Regions from separate parts of the Homo sapiens genome. Here region 2 is linked to region 1. Evidence: fine-mapped expression QTL. A gene starts in region 1. The other region holds a variant in brackets. All regions are shown on one strand. Distances are from middle to middle.

Region 1 (8,000 bases):
TTGGAGCTGGGGAGGGAAGGCCCATTTCAACAAAGGCGATGACAGTAATACTCTTTGAATAGCAAAGCCCCTGATGTCAGCCTGACGGAAAATGGGGAAAGCATTTAATGGGCCAAAATGATAGTCTAAGGAGTAATTGAAATTATTCATCTTTTTAAAGAGAAAGCTTATTTTCCTCGACACTTCCCAAATGCAATTTGGGATCTTTCTTGCCGGACCATCAGGAAATTGCAGGCTTATTAAAAGTAGAGCCCTGTTACACAAAAAGGTAAATTCATTATCTGCAAGACCCACCCCTAGCACAATTTTTCACCATTTCCCACCAAGTAACATATAATCATTACAATTAGTATGGGTAAAACACAACTATTTACTTAAACTGGAGGCTGAATCCTAAGTACTATAATATTGTCACAATAAAACCATTTTTTTTTTTTTTGAAGAACAAATGAGGAAAACTGGTTAAGAACTTAGTTTCAAACTGCAAAATAAATAAATAAATCTCTCTCCTTATGGAAACCCAACATTTTTGCCATGGTCTCCAGGAAAACAAAACCTGGCTTCAGAGTTGAAAGTAGCAATCCTCACCCCCAGAGCCCTACAATAACCCCCTCTGGAAGAACCTAATTACTAAACTAATCTTGACAGTGTTGGAAGCCTTCCATGCATCGCCCAGACTCCCCAACCCTTGGATGATTAAAAGATATCCTAACATTATGAAGACCCTAGGGGCTTTGCCACAGTGGTTTCCCTGCCATCAGGGCCGACTTTGGTCTGCCTAGGTTTTATATTAGTGCATATATGCACAGACATAAGCATACGAACTACCTTTATCGAGTCTCGCTAAGGACCAAGACATTTAAAATAGGTTATGTATGCTGGCTCCTTTAATCCTCACAACAATCTTATGGTATCCCATGTAGTGGGTTGAACTGTATCCTCCAAATAGATATATGCAAGTCCTAACCCCTGGTACCTGTGAATGTGCATTTATCTACAAATAGGGACTTCTCAGATGTAATTAAGTTAAGGGCCTAAAAATGAGATCATCCCGGATTTAGGGTGGGTCCTAAATCTGATGACTGATGTCCTTATAGAGGAAAGAAGAGAGAGACTTGTGACACAGAGACAAAGGGGGAAATGCCGTGTGAGGATGAAGAGAGTGACTGGAGAGATGCTGCCACAAGCCAAGAACACTGGGGCCACCAGAAGCTGGAAGAAGCAAAGGTGGGATCCTTCCCTAGCGCCTTCAGAAAGAGCATGGCCCTGCGGGCACCTCGATTTCAGACGTCTGGCCTCAGAACTGTGAGGGAATGCATTTCCATCACTTTAAACCACATAGTTTGTGGTAATTTGTTGCAGTGGTCCTAGAAAACAAATACATCCATTTTATAGAATGTTGTACTTACCACAGAGAGGCAAGTTACTTACAGTCTCATCGACAGTGACCAAACAGAGATTCGAACCTCAGCTTGTCAGAACCCAAAGCCTATTCTCAACCAGCCATTAGGACCAGAGTGAGGTTGGGCAACCCTGGAATATCACCCAAGTACTATTCCTCCTGAGAACGGCTGTATGGGAGAGCCAAGGGTCTGTGGGGACCACTGGGTTTGTCACCCACAGGGATATGACTTAGTAAGTTCTCAGTAGCCCAGAAGCCTGAGGAGGAATAGCCTCTAGGTAGGGCAACCAATCGTCCTGGTTTGCCAAGGACTGAGGAGTTTCCCAAATGCAAGATTTTCAGTGTTAAGGAAAGTCCCAGGCAGTCCCAGGACAAAGGCAGTCCCAGGTAGACCAGGGCAGTTGGCCAGCCTTCCTTTAGGGGATGCAGGAAAGGATGGGAGCACAAGAATAACCTTTGTGGAGGACTTGAGAAAACCAACTTGGGGAGAACAGGGCCTCTACTTATTCATGTGTCTATCCTCATCACATTGTGTCTATCCTCATCACATTGTGTCTATCCTGGTCCAAATTCATTCAACAGGCATTAAGTGCTTCCTCTGCATACCAGGCCATGTTCTGGGACGTGTGGTCTAAGTTCTGCCCCTCAGAACCCGGCCATCAGCCATCTTCAGCGATGGAATGCTCTCAATGCATGTCTGAGAAGCTAGAGCGCCTAGACTGGTCCAGTTGGCTGCACAGACACAGACAGTGGGTCAAGGCAGGGACAGTGACCAGGACCCGGGTTCCCCTGCCAGGCACAGCTGCAGGGTACGTCCACACTTACCGCTATAGCCTGGTGTGATTGGCAGGTTTCTCATGAAGGTCTTGGAAGGCTCCATGATTTCGCTCTCTGTTAGTGGAGGGAAGAGGGAATGAAACGGTCTCATCAAAAGTCACTGCCTTAAGGAATTACTATTGAGTGTGCACAAGCTCTTGGGAGTGGAAGAATGACTGCCAGGAGTTGGGGCTGAGAGGCAGCACTACCACCTTACCCAAAGCCAGAGACACAGCTGGCTTCAGTCACAAACCAATGACCTATTACCAAGGGCCCATCACCTTTTATGTTAACTTGGATAACAGTGTGTAGATCACACCTACCAGGGTCTCCTCTCCCCTCCATCCGACCTCCAGCCATCCAACAATTGTGAACTGTACTCATACTATGGCTGTGAAACATGATAGAGGCTGGGAATGCAAAGCTTCTGAGCAAGCCCAGAAGCCCCTGTGTTAGGTTCATGAGCCTCAGGTGAGGAGAGAGATGAGGCCCGCACACCCCCAGACCTCCTTCTTGATCCAGGTGAAATCAGGTTGCAGTGGTGATTTTTGCCAGCCCCCACCATTACCCCTGGAACATCTGGCAATGTCCAGAGGCATATTTGGCTGTCAGAAGTGGGGGATGGGATGCTACTGAACATCCTGCAATGCTCAGAAGCCTCCCCCCACCCGCCGGCACACACATGCACACACACACACACACACACACACACACACACACACAAACAAGGGAGAAGAAATTCTGGCTTGAAGGAATCAGGAAGTCCCAAAAGGCAGACATGGAGTCCAAGGAGGGTAAGCAGAGGCCACCCTCTGCTTCAGGGGGCTCCACTGAAACATCAGTTTATGTGGATGCTGTTTCTGCAATAAGACACCTTCCCTCTTTGGGTATCGCTGGTCATTCCCCCCAAGTGGGCTGAGGCCTTGCCAAGTCCTGCCCTGCTGAGCCAGTTCATCTCTTTAAAGAAATGCCTTTGAGGCTGGAAGAAGAGGATTCAGGGTGGAGGAGAGGGCCACAGTCATGGCTTAGTCAGCAATGATGGGGATTGTTAAGACAGTTCAGCCCCCGCCAGGCTGACAGCAGTGAGGACTGTGCCGCGTCTAGGCCACTCTAACCCCTGGCATCACGTACCTGACTCCTGGGAGGAAGCACTGGGCCTGGAGTCAGACAGACCTGGCTGTGAGACCATGTCCCACCCATACTGACCACCTGCTTACTTTTCTGAAAGCTTTCCACGCTTGTTTAATCCTCTCAACAGCCCCATGATATAAATGCTATATTATACCCATTCCCCAATTTAAAAAGGCAACAGACAGGGAACACTGGCTATCCCCATGTGGTTGCAGCAGAACCGCATTCTCCTTTAATCCCCACAGCTTCCCTAAGAATGAGTTCCTGTTGGAACCCCCATTTTATAAATGTGAAAAATAAGGCACAGAGAGGTTAGGTAACTGGTTTCAGGGTTCCAGAGTGAAAGGGGGTGCGAACAGATGACCTCTAAACTCTCAGGGACAGGATATGTTGCCCAAAAGCATCAGCTGGGGTATAAGCCTGCCTGGAGGAGGTGGGCAGGGAGGAGGGTGGGAAGAAAGGCGGTGTCCTGAGAAAGGGGGCTAGGAGTGGGTAGAAAGTAGGGCCCCTCCTAGCCACCCTCTTCCAATCCCACCTCAGCGCTCACCTGGGCGGGGCTGGCGCTATCCGGTGCCCACTTGGCCTCTGCCCGGCCGCCCAGGATCCCTGCCTTCCACCAGGCCTTTGTGCGCTCACCCGGTGGAGCACAAAGGCCCCACCACCGCCAGCCTGCCCCTCCCCCACCCTTCCCGCGGTCCCACCTGGAAGGTGGGCGCTTCCCCCAGCGCCCGGCACAGCCCGGACCCCGGTGTAAAGTCGGGCATCTGCGCAGTAAACATCTGGCCTCGGAGCTGTCCTCCGCGCCTTGGCTGCCCCAGCCAGGGGAAGGATATGCGGAGGGCTCTAAGTCAAAGCGGGCGTTTTTGCGGGTGTAGACACTGCGGCGCCTGGGTCTGCAGGTCTGGCCGGGGAAGCGGGTGGGCGGGAACAGGGGGCGGGGCCGGCAGTGGGCGGGAGGAGGCGAGGCCTGGGGGCCCTGGCGCCTCCAATACAGGAGCTTCCTGGGCCTGGCAGCCCCTCCCTCCCTGTCTCCTGTTAGGAGGGGCAGATTTTCAGGTGGCCGGGACAGGTGAAGGCAGAGAGGAGTGGCTGTCCACCTGGGGAAGGTGAGTCATCCTTCTTTCTAATCACTCTTGGAGGGACACCCAGACTTCCTCTCATTGAATTGAAACCCACCAAGATGTCCGCCCTATGAACCAGCATGTGCTGGCTGCTCCCTTTACAGAAAATGACGCTGAAGCTGCGCTACTTCCAGGACACGCTTGTTTGCTGCACCTCCCGGCCTTCCCTACCTCTACTTTTCTGAAAATTGAACTGCAAATGAAGGCTGGTGGAGCCGACCACCATTTATACCTCTCTTTTATCACCCCATTTAGAACATACCTCGGGCCATCAGGAAGCTTTCAGAGCCAACTGTGGAGGGCGACTCAGGTGTAGGCTCTGGACACAGCCAGTTTCACGTGACGGCTGGGATGCCCAGGGGCAAGAGCCCAGCCAGGCCTTCTGCATGTTTTAATGACTTACACTGGGGTGCAGTGGCATTGGCAGTGGTCACTCTGCTTACCTGCCCTCCCTCTGGCTAGACCACTTTCTTCCAGAGAAAAGGGGCTCTGTGCCCATCGATGGGGCCTTGGTTCCCAGCAAACAAAGGGCCTAGTCTTGTTAGAATAACTTAAGAAAACTTACAGCACCTGGAAAAAACTGAAACTCTCTCTCCACCACCTGAGATGGGGTAGAGAGGGAGATCAGTACTGACGTGTCCATCATGCAGTTTGCAAACCCAGGATGGGGGGAAAAAAAATCTGGGCCACATGAGATTCAGAGTTTTGCTTTATTAGGCGTCTGTGAAGACAAGAGAGTTTGCAGACACAGTCCCGTCTGGTGGTGAACTGCTGCAAAGTTCTGTGAAGTTTGAATTTATCTTGTAGTGAATGAGACCCCAGTAGCTGATATTTTAGAATACTGGTCCATATTTCAAGCAGATGAGAGGTGTGGCATTATGGCCAACAACTTTTATATTAGCCATCCACTCAAGCCGTTTCCCAGCATACATATGCAGCTTAATCACAGCTATACATCTCTACAATGTGAAATTCGATCTTTGACTAATAATGCATTCTGACTCCTGTTTACATTGGTGCATGCGATTCTTTGCTACCCTGGCAATTAACCAGACCTGGACTCTAAAAGCTAAACTTGGTCTAAATAACATTCTAAGGGTAAGGCAACCTCTATAATCTGGACTCAGCCATCATTTTGCAAAAACAGTTGTATGGTTCCTCCTCTTTCCCCTCCTGTCTGTAACTTGTCTGTTACTCAGCATTTATTCATGCCTGCTGTGTACGGAAAGGGCAGTTACAAAGGAAAGCCTTGATGATTCTGCTTCCAAGAAACGTGAAGATCAGATAATATGCCAGGGACAATTGAGTAATGGGTCAAGACAACAGGCCTTGTAGGTATTTTCTAAGGTTAGAAAAATGTGTTCAAGTGTACTTATCCAGTGCTCTTATTCTAGAATATTCCAGTGGGGGTAGGGAAGGAGGGATGGATTTGGGGGTTTCATTTAAGGACTCTGACAACTGGGGCTGCAGCTCTGTGGCCAGAAGATAAAATTATCATCCTCTCCATCACCTATCTGCCAACACTGCAGATTTCTATCTGCTCATTTAAGAGAAACAGTACACAGGGAGATAGCATTAATGCAAGGCAGGAAAGGCTTTACATTAGCCCAAAAAAGAGGGGCTTGACCATGTTACTCACACTTACACTTAGCCCAGCAGAAAAGCTGGGCTTATGTACCACTTGGTTTCTTTCTTTGACCCTAGCATCCTGAAAACATCACACACAGTGGACCACGCTTTGCCCTCAGAGTGACTGCTCCGACCCGGAAGGAGAGGTCAACGACCCCTCAGGACACAAAGGGTTTCTTAGGTTGTTCTGCGCAGTCACATGGCTTCCAGAACCAGAACGTTCAGCTCTTAAAGTCTGCACAGAAGAACTGATAGAATCTGCTCCTTTCAATGGAATCTGTGACTGTTTGGGAAGGATGTGCATGGAGAAGGGTCTGATGAGGCTCCTGATCCAGGCGGTCCACGTGCGTTCAGTGTGTTTGGACCCTAGGCACCTCTGTCTATTGCTCGGTCTTGCGTACATAGTCCATAGCTTGGCATCAGCACAGATCGATGCTTAGTGAGCACAATTAAGAAACCAAACTATGGAAAATTAAGGACAGTAACAAAAGTATCATCAACAAAAATCAAGCATTTTCCTCTTTTTGAAACAAGAAAAGCGCATCGTAGAAACCAAGATTCTGTACAATATTCTAACATTATATGTACATAAAATTATATTACTCATAACTATATTGAAAAGTCTTATTTGTAGAATATGGCTGGCAACAAAGAAAGACCCATACCATTTAGCGTTTGAAGCAGGGCAGGTAGCAAGAGAACATTAGCAAAGACACCTTTGTGCCTGGATACACAATCCTGCTACTAAGTTATGTGACTAACCAGCACACTCTAAGTTCTGTGGTTTGTTCGTTGTTTCACATTCTAGTAGGGAATTCTGCAGCAGGCGATGCGAAAAAGAAGACATGGTCAAATGAAATGTGAAATGCTGTTTAAAATCTGCATATTGGCTATGATAATGGGTTTGTGAATCCAAGTTGCATTGGAAGTTCACTCATTCTCCATTCATTATGCATGCCTCCAGTGATTTAATGAATTTCAGCAGGTGGAAAAGACAGCTTTGAACAGATCAGATGGGCTGTGAGTCAGATTCTTGATTCTTTTTCCTCATTTGGCTCCTGAATGTTGCAGAAAACTGGTTTTGTACACTGGGGAAGGAGAGAGTGAAGACCCTCCAGTTGGTTCCTCAGTCAGCTCCGTTCTTGGTGTCGCTTTCTTGCAATTTTTTTCCTCCCCTGGCCCTTCCTGTGAGGGTTAAAAGGGCCATCTCCAAGCCAGGTGGAGCCCCAATCCCATTGACCAAGAGGGCAAGGTATGGGGTCACCTTCTCATGGAAGCCCTCTTCCTAAAGGAGCCCAAAGGGGACACCTGCAGAGGGCGGGCTGTGATCTGTGTGTGAACTTCAACAAAATCTCAGGTTAGTATTTCTCCAATTTCAGTTGAACCACGATGTGGTATACACTACAAATGCAGATTCTGGTGCCCCTCTCCAAGAGTCGGCCTCAGTTAAAAAGGGCTCAGATCCAGGAACCTGTTCTGAACACGCACCCAGGCAATTCTGATGCAGGCGAGCCACAGGCCCGCTGTGAAAAAAAACTGACTTAATACATCAAGTATAGATCTACAAATTATTTTTAGAGAGACTTGAAAAACTGAAGATTTTAATGAAACATTGCATAGCACAGATTCTCTTCCCAAATTTCACCAATGTATTCCTTTCAAAATGTGGAATTAAATGGCCAAAACTCTTAGGGAGATGAAGGTGAGTGGGAAGGAGGGGGTTAATTTAAAATCTGTCTGCTTTTCAAGGTGAGGGGCTCTTCTGGATGTCTGGTCTTGGTGATGCAAACAAGACCAATGGCAACCTCATTTTCTTACCCAGAATTCCTACTAAGGTTCACTAGAATTACTTATGAACTCAGAAATCAGGGCTGGGCATGCTGGGAATTTATGTCACAGCA
Region 2 (9,234 bases), 41 kb after region 1:
GGTCTTCTTTGTGCGTCTGCACAGCTCATGCAAAGCTGCCCTGTCTTCCGGGCACTCACTCAGGTTGGCTGCCTGTGCATCTACGTGCACACCCCTCTAAACGGCCGCCCCCTAACATCCATCTTTCCTCATACAGGGCAGGGTGGGAGCAACAGCCCCATCTCTAGCCCCACTCAATGCATATGAAGCCCTGCTCAGGGCTTCTCTACCAGGCAAGCTGTTCCAGAAGCGATTATACTGCTAGGGTCTTTTCGATACTGCAGACAACCGCAGTCAACAGAGTCCATGTATTCACCGATTCACTAGCCCAGAGTCAGCGGCTTCCTCTCAAGAGGACACCTCACAGGCTCTGACCCTGAATCTTTAAAGGGCTGCTCCCATCTCACCTTCTTCTGTGACCCACCCAGGCCCCTGCTCCAGAAGCACTAGCCACAGCACAGAAAGCCTTCCCAGGCTCGGAGTGGGGGAAGGGGCTTGGCAGGGCTCCTTTGGCCAGGACCAGGTCAACTTAATCTCCAACCAGTGAATGTGAGGGGCTGTCCAGCAGCCTGAACTGTGAGATCAGACCCAGAATGCAAAGGAAGTCAGTACGCACGTGTGCTCATGCGCACCCATGCGCGCACACACACACACACACACACACACACACACACACACACTTCTTACCACAATATGGGAGGGGGACAGAGGCGTTATTCCTGTGTCCCCAAGACTCCGGGCTGGAGATGAATATGCAGATGTGGGAGCCGTTTCTGAAAGGAAAAACAAAGCCGCCTCCTTAGAAGTGGCATGGACTGACCCAGGGGGAAGAAATGAGGGCTGCATGGCCTTAACTCCTCCAGGAACTGCGGCCTCTGCAAAGCCAGCTCACGAAATGGGCAAGGCCCAGCCCCAGCCAGGAAGGCAGGAACATCCGTTCCAGCACCTCTTTGCATTTGGTATTTAGAATTCGACCAAATGAGATGCTCCTTTCCTCCCAGTCGCCACCAGGCCTCTCACTCTGTGCCACTCAACCCAGCTTAGTTGGAGATGCTGGTCAGTCCCCGAAAGCTCCGCTCCTGGCTGTGTTGTCTGTGGAGCCAGAGGCCAGGCTCCATGATGGACTAGCAGGACCTGTAGCCACCTGAAATTATGTCAAATTTTTGTGTGCATTTTCTTGGAAGAGCATCTACAGCCCTCGGGTTCCCAAAGGGGTGAGGGGTACCTCCCCCAAGGAAGAGCAACCCCTATCCTAGGAATGTAGGATGTGATGAAGCTTCAGAAAGAGCGTCCTTGCCTAGCAGATGCACCAGCTCCTCCCTCCCCCTGCCAGGGCATGTGAATTCATCTCTCTTCAGTGATACTGAAGGTTTGGGACCTTTTTCAATCATAAAAACCACAGCAAAAAGGCAGACAGATCAGCATTTCTAGCCCCTGCAGATGGGACCCAACAGCCACGAGGTCAAACAGGCGAAGGGCCAGCAGCTAAGCAGCAGGAACACCATTTTGTCTGTTCCCCTGCACTCACCATCATTCAGGCCTAGCATTTTTCTGAAGTCTTCCCAGAGCCAGTGGCTCTGCCCCAGGAATGGGCCCCCCGGGAGAAAAAACACTCTCCCTGGCCGGCATTGGAACGCGCTACAGTGCTCTCCCTGCCTGCTGCCTAGGGCTGGCAGGGCACAGAGAAGCTGAGTGAAGACTGCGTGCTCCCACCGCAGAGACGAAGGCCGGGCACTGGGCACGTGCAACGACCCAGCACCACCCTCGGTGCTCTGCACATCCTGCTCCGTTTAGTACATACGTACTGAAACCTGCTAGGAAGAAGTGGGTAATTTTCCAAGGCAATACTTGTGGTCAAGGAAACCAGAAGGTTTGAGGTGTCTGAGAAAAGCCTGTCTGCTTCTAGGGGAGCAGGTGGAATGGTTCCATCTGCCTCTTCTGCTAAATCACTTTGGGTTAATCCCAGGCTCTTGCTGATTACTTTTTCTACTTGATGAGGACTCAGGCAGCATCATTACAGTGGGCACCAAACAGGCTGTAGGAATGAAATGAATCATGCAAGAGGGAATGTGAAGCCTCAAATCTGCACAGCCACCTCCCACTCTCTGCAAGCTCACAGCCTCTCTCCGCCTGATGAGGCTCAGTTCCTATCTTGGGGAGGGAGAGGCACAGTCCAGTAATTACAGAGGCAAAAATCCAACTCGCTGGGTAAAGGACTTGAATAGACATTTCTCCAAAGAAAATACACAAAAGATATATCAACAAGTATATGAAAAGATGTTCAACATCATTAGTCTGTAGAGAAATGCTAATCAAAACCAGTGAGATATGGCTTCACACTGACTAGGATGGCTACAGTTTTTTAAGAAAGGAAAATAACAAGTGTGTCAAGGATGTGAAGAAATTGGAATCCTTGAGCATTGCTAGTGGGAATATAAAACGGGACAACTGCTGTGGAAAAGAGTTTGGCAGTTCCTCAAAAAGTCAAGTACAGAATTACCATATGACCAGCAATTCCACTCCTAGGTATCTACCCAAAAAACTGAAAACAGGGACTCAAGGAGATACTTATATGCAAATGTTCATGCAGCATTATTCACAATAACAGAAAGGTGGAAACACTTCCAGTGTCCAACAACAGATGAAGGGATAGGCTGGGCGCGGTGGCTCACGCCTATAATCCCAGCACTTTGGGAGGCCAAGGTGGGCAGATCACTTGAGGTCAGGAGCTGAAGACCAGCCTTGCCAACATGGTGAAACTCCATCTCTACTTAAAAATACAAAAATTAGCCAGGCGTGGTGGCACATGCCTGTAGTCCCAGCTACTCGGGAGGCTGAGACAGGAGAATCATTTGAACCCAGGAGGCGGAGGGTGCAGTGAGCCGAGATTGTGCCACTGCACTCCAGCCTGGTGACAGAGCAAGACTCCATCTCAAAAAAAAAAAAAAAAAAGATGAAGGGATAAACCAAATGTGGTATATCCATACAACAGAATAGTATTTCATTGTAAAAAGGAAGAACATTCTTATACATGCTATAACATAGGTGAACCTAGAAAATATGCTAAGTAAAATACATGGATGCAAAAGGACAAATATTGTATCATTCCACTTATAGGAAATCTCCAGAATAGGCAAATTCACAGAGACAGAAAGTAGATGAGAGGTGACCAGGGGTAAGAGGAAGGGAGAAATGGAGAGTTCTTGCTTAATGAGTACAGAATTTCTCTTTGGGGTAGTGAAAAATTTTGGAAATAGATAGTGGTGATGGTTGCACAACATTGTGAATATAATTCATGCCACTGAATCATACACTTAAAATGGTTTAAGTGGCAAATTTTATGTTATACATACTTTTTAAAAAAACTTTATTGAAAAGTTTAAATCAACTTGCTCATCTGGGAGGGGAAGCTATTTCTGATTTCTATTAGCACCCACGACTAACAGAATTGCTATTAGCCGTGGGCGCTAATTGCTCTTGAAAAGAGAATGGAGAAGTCAGCTCAGTTCCTAGACCAGCCTGCTGATCTCCACCATCTTTGCTAATCTCCCAGCACAAGGGAACCCCTTCCATGAATGCAGGGGGAACTCTGCCTCCCCACTAGGGGTTCCAGCCAGATGGTCCTTCCACCTGTTGGTGAGAGGTCCTCCCTGCCCACAGCCCTTGGGCAGCCTGCGGAGAAATGCCATCAGCACCAGAAGCCACCCTCTCCACCTGCTACCTGGAAGGCCTGCGCCATGTGTCCACATTTGCACAGACGGTCCTGAAAGAAACCAAATGTCTAATTGCCCAGAAAATCTGGTGTTGGCAATTAGCAAACAAGCTATTATCTGCAGACAAACTATCCACCCCGCTGCTGCTTGGTCCTAATTATCCCATCACTCAGCCCTTCTCAGAGCCCTGGGTCTTCTCACTGATTTGCAAAATAGCCAAGGTTGAGCCACACATGGAACACATGTCTTGGGTCCCCAGGGGACTCTAGGATACTTTGAGGGCAAGAAGCAAGGATTTTTTGGTTCTGCTGTACCTCCCTTCAACCCCACGGCAACTGGGCCAATATTAAACAAATCATTTGACTTGCTGATCACTCAGCCAGGCCTAGAGGCAGCCGAACTTCATGGACTTTTTCCATCAGAAGTTAAAATTCAGCTACACTGTGCAATGATTGAAAACTGATCTGCACAGAAGGTATGGAGGGGTAACATTTTCAGAGATACCTGCACATGGTGCACACCCACATCTATATATCTGTATATTCCAAATCAAAGATAATTCACCAGCGAATGTCCATCAGTACAGCACAGAAATATACACAGCCAGTAGAGACATGCTACTGTTTCTCTACTTCACTACTTAGGATGTCAAAATGATGCTCAAAAATTCTCAGGGGAAAAAAAACGGAAAAGCCTATCTCACCCCCTGAGGAGAATGGGGAGTTTAATTCTGATGTGTCCCAACAAGGCTTGAGATCTTTCATTCAGTAGGTAAATGATCAGAAATAAAATACAGAATATTATCTATTAATCTATGAATATCTGACAGATATAAGCTAATGGACAACAGGAGAGAATTGATGTATGGAATGCCCTATACATACCAAGTGTAGGCTGTGTGTCCTGGCTGTCAATTATACAGAGGCCATTATCTATAGTAAGGAATCCCAAATGCCATTAAGTGTGGCCCTGCCTCCACTGCTTCTATAAAGCTAATACAACAACATCTCCCTCGGGACTA[C/T]TCTCACCCAGGGGATAGTCCAGTTCAGTCCCCACAGGTTGACTTGGACACACTAGGAACAGAAGAGAAAGGCTAAGTCAACACCTCGACACAAATAGAGTTTCCTATAGTCGAGGCTTGAGAGAAAGAAAGGAAGCTGAAGAAAAGAAAATCCAGACCCTTCTGTGGAGGTAGAGAAGGAAGATTGCTAAAAGACAGGTTAAAGAAAATGCTCTATCAAGAAATGTGATCAAGGACAGAGCTAAAGGAACTAGGAGTTTTAAGAAATACCTACAGCACCGTTCCAAGTAGATTAAATAAAGGCCTACTCAAAGCATCTTCCACTTCAAGCACTAAGTTACCCTGAAATCCCATAATACAGAGAGAGTCAATGTTTTCACATCAAGGAATCAGAGAAACACTGACTCTTTCTTTTTTTTTCTTTTTTTTTTTTTTCGAGACTGAGTCTCGCTCTGTCGCCCAGGCTGAGTGCAGTGGTGCGATCTCGGCTCACTGCAAGCTCCACCTCCCAGGTTCACGACATTCTCCTGCCTCAGCCTCCCGAGTAGCTGGGACTACAGGCGCCTGCCAACGCGCCCAGCTAATGTTTTTTTTTTTTAAATTTTTAAATTTTTTTATTTTTAGTAGAGACAGGATTTCACTGTGTTAGCCAGGATGGTCTCGATCTCCTGACCTTGTGATCCGCTGGCCTCGGCCTCCCAAACTGCTGGGATTACAGGCGTGAGCCACTGTGCCCGGCCAACACTGACCCTTTCAAGAATGCAAACTACTAGCCACAAAACTATGGTTAAGCGGAAGGGGAAGAGACCTTTCTGGGGAACAGACCTTTCTGGGAAACAAACAGAAGAGCTTTCTGGGGAACAAACAAAAATTAATCATCATGTCTCCTTTGCTATTAGCTACGTGTTAGATAATTTAACATCACTTCAGTCTTGCAGAGCTAGTGAGCAGAAAATCTTTTTTAACTTTAGTGAACATAAAAATAAGGTGATGAGGGTGGTTATAGATTAACTCACAATCCTGGAACACCCCACCCCAACACATTAAACAATTTTTGCCAGAAAGAGGGGTATATAAAGAAATGAAAATATTTTTGCAGCAATGTAGAGGACAAATAAATAAAAGTATCAAATCCTGGCCAACAAGTCTCCTGCCCCAGGATTTCTTACAACCCCAAACCAGGCAATTGAGGAGGAACTAGTTTAGTTTGTTAGGTTAATCCTCATCGCTGGTCTTATTGGTTTAAGGATTAAAATGCAGGCTTCATCTGGGTTCCTGCTGTAAAATGCAACACATATAAAATTCAGACACAATTTTATGTGGTCCCAGCTCTAATGGCTTTAATCAAAGCAGATGTTCTTAAAATAAAAAATAGTCTTGATAAGAGAACCTCAAAGAGAGCCATAATTCATGAACTTGCTTGCTGTTCTCCTCTGCCAAAGTCATTAGTCAGCAAATGGCCGTGAGCAGAATCACAGACTCTCTGAGATACATAAAATCAATTCTGCTCCATAAATACATGTTTAAAGATGAAGACAGAACCATAGGGCTGACTTTATTCTACAAGGTTCTAGGCTCCGAGGAAATGTGACAGGTGGTCTCAACAATAGTGACATTCTAGTTTCTCTAAACAGTCCTTCTTGTTAGCTTTCAGATTTACGTATCCATCAAATAAATGCCCAATTTGAAAAGGAGTTTTAAGGTCTGGTACTTATGATTTTAAAAAATGCAATATATATATATATATATATATATATATATATATTTGCATTTCTTTTTCCCTGCTGGCTGTCAGATGTCAGGCCTTTGCTAACGATTGCCTAAAATCAGGCTATTTAAAAAAAAAAAACCTCTCTCTCTTTCTCTCCTTATATGCCTGCCTGCAGTGTCATCTTTGAAAACTGATCAGCTCAAGGTCATATGTAGGTTACTGGCAAACATCTTTTCAGAAGGAAAATAAAAAATCTTTTATTACCCTATAACAGGCTTCATGGCTAGCTGAACTAATGCATTATTACTGTAAGCTGAACTTCCATTTCAGTAAATAATTTATGGGCTGTTTTTAATCACTATGGTGGATGTCCAGAGTAAATGGAAATTTTATTGGCATGAACCAGGAGACCCTCTCACTACAAAGAACACTGAGTGTAAAATAACCACTCTGCAAATGCTAAATAATAATTATGGAAATGAGCATTTACCATGGCAGAGACAGTAGCATCAAGCCCAGGCCAAGTTGGGGGCAGCATCAGGCCCATCCTGACACGGGGTAGCAACTTCTTGTTACCCCTCCTACCTCCCTGAATAGTCCAAGAGATGAAATGTCGCAGGGAGAGCGAACTGGGGCAGCTGAGTTTCCCAAGACAGGAAAAGCCCCGAGTCCCTGCAATCCCAAACTGTCAACAGGGGTGGTTCACAGTCTCTCTCCTAACTGCAGGTTCATGCATTGGTCCGTGGGCCTCCAATTGTGTCTATACATGTCCAGGCAACTGCTGGGAGAGGTGAAGACACACTTGCTTGACCAACAGTTTTACTACTAATTTTCATGAATTACACTCCTCAACCTTACAGCCCTTCCCTCCAGCATCCAGCATTTGAAGAGGCTCTACCAGATCACCCTACACATGGTACTAAGATGTTTCTGTCCTCCTGGCTTCTCTCCCATGGACTCTGCTTGTTGGGGTAGGGCCAAGTCTTACTTCATCTCTAATTCCTTAGCTCTTGACATGTCACAAGCACTCAATGTTGGATGGATGGATGGATGGATAGATGGATGGATGGATGGATGGGTGGGTGGATGGTGGGTGGATGGATGGATAGGTGGGTGGGTGGGTGAGTGGATGGATGGACGGATGGATGGGTTGGTAAGTGGATAGATGGATGGATGGATAGATGAGTGGATGGATGGATGAATGGATGGACTTTTTATGTGTACCCAAAAGTGGACTCAGTGACTATCCACAGACTAAGAGTGTCAGGGAGTTCTTTCCCAACTGAGGCATCAACTCTCTTGAGTTGGATATTAGTAACATACATGCTATGCTGAGTGACCTCCAACAATGTGGGATCAGCTCTCAAACCACCCAGGTCTGCCTCTCTCCTCAGATACCCCTTTTGCCAGTAAAACCACCACTGCTCCCAGATGGAAGAGTCCCTAGACTTCCTCCTTTCTCATTCTACCCCCAAGCCCTATCACTCCTTCTAATTAGCATCTCTTGCATTCGCTGGCTCCTCTGCTAAGTCACCACTACAGCCTTGGTCCAGATCCTCCTGAACTTTCAGTCTCCCTGTCCTGGGCCTGCCCCCTCCCCCAGACACACTCACCCTGCAGTTAAAGCCATGACTGCAGATACAGAGAAAGCCATCTGGTCAAAATCAAGGTCTGCTCACCTAACTCAACCTTGTCAGGGTCTTCCCCTGATGCCCATTTCCCATGCAATAAAGTCCAGCACACTACTGACCCCAGGCTCTTCTAAGTCCACCCCACCTTCCTCTGCAGTCTCTTCTCTCTCTACTGCCCCACATCCCTGGCCATACCAAACCTATCCACAGGCCTTGGAACATCTGTGCTTGATTCAGCCTCTGGGCACTGCACATGCTGTTCCCCTGCCTAGCGTGCATCCTGCTTCTACAGCAGGCAAATTCTGCATCACCCTTCAGGGACCTCCACCTCTAAAAGTCAGCCTCCTCTTTTAAGAGAGAAGAGCCTTCTCAGCTCCCCCGGTGCAGATGAGAGAAGAACTTGTGCATCAGTTCCTGGTGATCAACTGGAAAACCCAGATGGGGGAAACTCGACAAGAGAGACAGGTTTCTCCTAAAGATAATCACAAGGAAAATCTACAGGAAAGGAGGGCAAACCTATGGACTAGAAGGTCTCAGCTCTGCTGTGCATCAGAACCCCCGAGGCTTGTTAAAACACAGATTAATGGTCTCACCCCCAGAGTTTCTCATCCAGTAGGTCTGAGGCTGGCTGACAATTTGCACTGATAATTTCCCAGGCTATCCTGACTGCCCCGGAGACCAACTGCGACAGCTTAGAAGAGACTTAAAACACACATCAACTCCAGTAAATGCAGTGGATGGACCTTTAGTGGATCCTAACTCAAACAATCCAAAAATGTTACATTTATGAGCCAATTAGAAACGTAAATGCTGACCAGACATTGGTAATGCTAAGGGATTATTATTAATAGTACAGTTACATAATTTTTAAAAGAGCCCTTGTCCTCTAGGGATACATTCTCAAATGTACAGACAAAACAATAGCATTTCTGGGATTTGTACCAGAATAGCAGGAGAGGGAAGGGGCAGGGATTAAACAAGGTTGGCCACAAGTTGATAATGACTAAAACTGGTGACAGATTCATGAGGCTTCAGTATAATATTTGCTCTGCTTTTGTATGTTTAAAACTTTCCATAATAAAATAATTGTGATTTGAATGTGCCAGTTACATGGAAGCTCCCGGACGGCAGGTCAATGTTTTTCTTCCGCTGTCCATCAGAGCACCTGGCCCATACATG

The links. PIP is the estimated chance that this variant, and not a neighbour inherited with it, causes the effect.
Region 2: its variant is fine-mapped to the expression of SPMIP5 in tibial nerve (GTEx, PIP 0.96).

What each region holds. Positions count from the first base shown.
Region 1 is chr10:116,666,031-116,674,030 of GRCh38, forward strand. SPMIP5 (sperm microtubule inner protein 5) reads right to left here and starts at 3,936. Exons shown (of 6, transcript NM_001350931.2): 1 at 3,897-3,936; 2 at 2,228-2,293. The coding sequence starts at 2,282. HSPA12A (heat shock protein family A (Hsp70) member 12A) reads right to left here. Exons shown (of 12, transcript NM_025015.3): 12 at 5,162-8,000. It overlaps HSPA12A-AS1 (HSPA12A antisense RNA 1), which reads left to right and starts at 4,025. Exons shown (of 3, transcript NR_187551.1): 1 at 4,025-4,248; 2 at 4,364-4,455; 3 at 6,175-6,708.
Region 2 is chr10:116,706,534-116,715,767 of GRCh38, forward strand. It overlaps HSPA12A (heat shock protein family A (Hsp70) member 12A), which reads right to left. Exons shown (of 12, transcript NM_025015.3): 2 at 667-752. Among named protein-coding and RNA genes, the nearest start is that of HSPA12A, 31 kb to the right of the region's middle. The variant C/T (reference allele first, on the strand shown) is at 4,714.